2 separate regions of the Homo sapiens genome follow, and region 1 is linked to region 2. A link means that fine-mapping ties the variant in region 2 to the expression of a gene that starts in the linked region. Tissue or cell type: cerebellar hemisphere. Region 2 holds a variant in brackets; the other region holds the start of a gene. All regions are shown on one strand. Distances are from middle to middle.

Region 1 (2,500 bases), 36 kb before region 2:
ATAGTTGCATTTTTTTTTTTTTTAAGAGAGGCAGGGTCTCCCTTTGTTGCCCAGGCTGCAGTGCAGTGGTGCAATCAGCTCACTATAACCTTGAACTCCTGGGCTCAAGGGATCTTCCCCTCTCCACTTCCCAAGTAGCTGGGGCTACAGGTGCACACCGCCATGCCACACCCAGCTTATTTATTTTAGAATTTTTGTAGAGACAGGGTCTTGCTGTCTTGTCCAGTCTGGTCTCAAACTCCTGGCTTCAAGTGATCCTCCCTGCCTTGGCCTCCTAAAGAGTTGGGATTACAAGGCCGGGCGCAGTGGCTCACACCTGTAATCCCAGCACTTTGGGAGGCCGAGGGGGGCGGATCACGAGGTCAGGAGATCGAGACCATCCTGGCTAACATGGTGAAACCCTGTCTCTACTAAAAATACAAAAAATTAGCTGGGCGTGGTGGCGGGTGCCTGTAGTCCCAGCTACTTGGGAGGCTGAGGCAGGAGACTCCAGCCTCAAAAAAAAAAAAAAGAGTTGGGATTACAGGCATGAGCCGCTGAGCCCAGCCACAGCTGCAATTTCATTAGATTGAACGGTGTGAAATCATCAGTAGTGGGCCACTGTTTTACTCCCTGCATTATTCAATCATGATTGCTTTCAGACTTTCATTAGTTTCACTAGCTTCGCGCTGTAAGAGCCAAGAGGCAGAGCCACAGGGCTGGGCTGCCTGGTTTCACTCCCCACTGCAGGGCTCGGTTAAGCAGAGTGTAGGCTAAGAGAGGAATGGAGAAGGTGGAAGGTGTCTCTCCCTTCCAACGCTCATCTGATGCACCAGCCAAACCAAATACCACCTGGGCCTTTGAACATTGCCAAGCCTCATCCGCTGTTGTCATTTTGCCCACCTCCACAGCTGCAGGGACAGCCGTAGGCCCGGAACTGGGATATCTCTTCCTAGGGGCCTGCCTATCTGCTCAGCTGCACTGCGTTTTAGGGGTGGGGAAGCTAAGGCACGAGATTGGGGTCCCAAAGCATGCCCAGACCACCCAGGCTTCCAGATACTAGGTCCTCCTCCTTCAGGCCTCACTTCGTTGCTTTTCCCCTGGGCTCAGTTCCAGTCCTGGCTGTAAGACTGGGAAAGCCACTGCTTGAGTCAGGACCTCATTGGCTATTTTTGTCCGTGAGAAGTCCTCTACACCACGACTTGGGAGGCAGCCTGGGAGAAAGAGAAATTAGTCGTGGCTCCTTTAAGGGGTCCGCGGAGGCGCGCCCGGCCTTTTGTTTGAGCGGCGGCGCGCGCGTCAGCGTCAACGCCAGCGCCTGCGCACTGAGGGCGGCCTGGTCGTCGTCTGCGGCGGCGGCGGCGGCTGAGGAGCCCGGCTGAGGCGCCAGTACCCGGCCCGGTCCGCATTTCGCCTTCCGGCTTCGGTTTCCCTCGGCCCAGCACGCCCCGGCCCCGCCCCAGCCCTCCTGATCCCTCGCAGCCCGGCTCCGGCCGCCCGCCTCTGCCGCCGCAATGATGATGATGGCGCTGAGCAAGACCTTCGGGCAGAAGCCCGTGAAGTTCCAGCTGGAGGACGACGGCGAGTTCTACATGATCGGCTCCGAGGTAGCCCGGGGCGCGTTCTCGCCCTCCCCGGGCTCGGCCCCGCGGGAGCCCCGGGGCGGGCCCATGCGCCGAGAGCGCGCGTCTCCATTCATCGGGGCGGGCGGGCGCGCGCGCGCGCGCTCGGGGCTGTGGGGCGTGGCCTAGTGGGCGTGTCGGGTGTGGCCCCCGCCCCCTCATCGACCTGGGATTTCCTTACTTATTTCGCCGAGGTCCGCCGCCTTCAGTGCTGCCAAGATTTTGGCGCCGCGAGGGGCCCCAGTGGTTCCGCGCTGGGTTGGTTTCCAGTCAGACGCAAAGAAACGGGATATTGAGTTAGCCCCTGCGACGCTTGGGGGACTGCACTGCTGCCTTTGACCCTTTTTAGATGTCGTAAATTTCACGTGCACCCCTCCCCGTATTGCTACTTGTGGGAACCTCAAATGGCAGGCTGGAAACCCTGGACTTAGTGAGGGCTCATCCCCATTGTGTTTGTTGCCTCTTAGGTGAGCAGTGGAGGTCTTTTGACCTTTGTTTACCGGTGAAGAAACAGATTGGAGGAAGATGTTTGCTTTTGGGTGAATAAGGGCCCCATGCCTAAGCTAGATCTTTCAGCAGTTCTGAAGCGATTGACACTTTCCATATCTGTGAACTGATTCTGAATTATTACAGGGGAAAGAGCCTAAGGATGTTTAACCCTTAACTAGAGTGGCTGCATTTTGTTGCATCAACTGGATGACTGACTTCAGGAAAACTCTACTGGCCTTTGAATGGGTGTTTGTTCCAAGTCTATTAGGTTCTTGTTTTTTGTTTTTTATAGAGACAGGGTCTGGCTATGTTGCGCAGGCAGGTCTCCAACTCCTGGGCTCAAGCAGTCTGCCCGTCTGGGTCTCCCAAAGTGCTAGGATTACAGGCATGAGCCACCACACCCGGCCATA
Region 2 (2,749 bases):
TTGTCTTGATCCTGGAACATGACTGAAGGAAAACAAGAATCTTTGGAGCCATGGCACATGAGGACCATCTCTCTCCTCAGAAAGAGTGCCTTAGGTTAGAGCAGCATCTTCCAGATATTCTTGGCAATGCTGGGACCAAAGCCCAGGCCTGGCTGCCCTTGCCAGGGCACCTGGCCCAAGTCGGCTTTGCCCAGTTCCAGCAGGGGTTGGGGGGCAGGGGAGGAAGCTGGGGACATGGTGCTGCTGCAGTTTGAGCCATCAGACCCTGTGGCACTGTCCAGGCCCCGTCCAGAGAGTGCATGGGGTGAGATGTGAGTCAGGGCTGGGGAGGTGGGCAGGGGCCTGGCCCTGCTGTGCACCTGCTTGGGAGTCCTGGCCCCGTCTTAGCTCTGTGAGTCCACCTGGAGTCCAGCACTCCTCACTACCCCACCAAGGCCACTGCCAGATGGCTCCCTTCCTCCCTCCCCGCCTTCCAGTAGAGGTCTCAGCATGGCAGCTCAGCCCATGTCTCTTGTCTGCCCAAAATACCGCAGAAGCTTCCCACATCCCTCTGTGGAAGCCAAGCCTGTCCAAAGGCCTCAGGGCCCTAACTGCTCTCTGCTACAGTCCCTCGCCACCCTCATCTCCTCCCTTTTCCCCTCACTGGGCAGATCCGGGTACCAGACCTTGGCTCCTCAGTCTTTTACATCTCTGTGTCCCCCACCTGGGACTGTTCTCCCCCAGGGAGCCACATTCCTGCTCCCTGGGCACATTCACTTCTTCCTAAAGGCCACCTTCCTAGAAGCCTTCCTGGCCTCCTGACTTCTGAGGCCAGCCTGGACTTTCTCCCCCTCCCTCCCTTTCCTCCCTGGCACTCCCGTGCTTTCTGGTACACCACATGCTCACTTAACCTACTTAGTGTCTGTCAGTGCCCCCACCAGCATAGCTTTTTTTTTTTTTTTTTTTTTTTTTTTTTTTTTTTTTTTTTGACACAGAGTCTCGCTGTGTTGCCCAGGCTGGACTCAAACACCTGAGCTCCAGTGATCTTCCCACCTCAGCCTCCCAAGTAACTGAGACTACAGACATGTACCACCTCACCTTTCTCAGAACAGCCTTTTGAATGTTTGTCTCTCTTGTGCCTCTCCTTGGTAGACACACAGTCTAGACTTTGGAATAAATGAATGTGTTAGTGACTGAATGGCAGGGGACAGGCAACTCCATCCATGAGCCCAGGGCAGGGAGGGCTTGCTGGGTGGGAGCCATGTGCCTATGGTCCTATGGGGTCCTGTTGGGTGGTTCCATGGGCTGTCTGCTGCTGCACGTTCTTTTTGGACCCAGCACCCACGTGGTTTGCTTGGCATTAGATTCCAGTTGGGAAGGGCCAGTGCCTCCGATTCCATTCATCATCAGGCGTGGGCGTATGTGGAGATAGCAAAGGACATGGGGGCCCGACTGCAGTCCCCATTGCCTGGCTGCATGCCGTGTACAGGACACTGCAGCTCTGCCCTCGGCTTCCTCCCTCTGCGTGAGGATTCCTTCATTCCCAGAACAAATACACCCTGCCTGTGCTAGAATTCCTGGAGGCAAATGATTCAGATTGTTTCAGACAGTCCTAAGTGCTGTGAAGAAAATAGGAGAGGTGCCAGCATGGTGGCCCGCACGTATAGTCGCAGCTACTCAG[G/GAGACTCC]AGACTCTCGGGGGAGGATCTTTTGAGGCCAGCCTGGGCCAACACAGAGAGGCAGCAGGGAAGCCTGCGGGGAACAGAAGGCTCAACCACAGGGTCTCTTCTCTGCCCAAAACACTTGATACATTGCCTGGGCCTTGTAGAAACCTTGTCTCTACAAAATATTAGCCAGACATGGTAGTGCATGTCCGTAGTTCCAGCTACTCAGGAGGCTGAGGCAGAAGGGTCTCTTGAGCCCAGGAGTTCAAGGCTGTAGTGAGTCATGATCATGCCATTGCACTCCAGCCTGAGTGACAGAGTGACATCCTGTCTCCAAAGGGGGAGAAAATGGAGAGAAGGGTGTGGAAAGGGGCTGATGGGAAGGGGAGCTCTCAGGAGCTGGCACTTTAGCTTAGACCAGGATGCTGAGAAGAGGCTGGTCCTGCCAGGTGAGGGGAAGAGCATTCTAGCAAGTGGGTGGTGATGTGCAGGGCTCAGAGGCACAGGGCTTTATGAACATGATCGGGGATTGGGGTACCCTAATCTCTAAAAGGAGGCAGAAGTCCCCGGAAGGGCTGGACTCCGAGGCAGTGGTGAGTTTTCCCTGCAGCTGCCCACCCTGATCCTTGACTTAAAAGCTAAGGGCCAACAATGAATGGGCAGGTGCACTGTGACCTGGTTGCCCTGTGGAGCACTGGATAGCAGTGAGGGATGACCCCAGCCCCACACTCTAATGGGAGGAGTCTTGCAAGCATGATGCAGAGTGAATGAACCTGGACCCCGAAGTGTCCATCCTATTCAGAACAGCCACACCTACTCAAGGGGTGAGAAGTCAAAATGGTGCCTCCCCAGGGGGGCAGGTGTAGGTGGGAGCCCCTGGGGTACAGTCTGTGTTCTCTCAGCTGGGTGCTGGCTTCCCAGGTGTCCACTAGTGGAAAACCCCTGACAGCACACCCGGGGCCTGGGCCCTCTGGCTGTGAGTCACGTGCTGCAGGGAGTCCTCTGGGGAATGTGGAGGAGCTGGCCCAGCACTGTGATCCCTGCAGGCTTCCCTGTCCCCTCACCGTGTTGACCCAGAGTGGGGTGCATCTGTGAACACGCTAGGCAGGGTTT

What was found. PIP is the estimated chance that this variant, and not a neighbour inherited with it, causes the effect.
Region 1: it holds the start of SMARCB1, and the variant in region 2 is fine-mapped to the expression of SMARCB1 in cerebellar hemisphere (GTEx, PIP above 0.99).

The regions. Positions count from the first base shown.
Region 1 is chr22:23,785,677-23,788,176 of GRCh38, forward strand. SMARCB1 (SWI/SNF related BAF chromatin remodeling complex subunit B1) reads left to right here and starts at 1,290. Exons shown (of 9, transcript NM_003073.5): 1 at 1,290-1,586. The coding sequence starts at 1,494.
Region 2 is chr22:23,822,032-23,824,780 of GRCh38, forward strand. All of the region lies in intron 6 of SMARCB1 (SWI/SNF related BAF chromatin remodeling complex subunit B1), which reads left to right. Among named protein-coding and RNA genes, the nearest start is that of DERL3, 16 kb to the right of the region's middle. RefSeq lists an enhancer at 2,652-2,749. The variant G/GAGACTCC (reference allele first, on the strand shown) is at 1,661.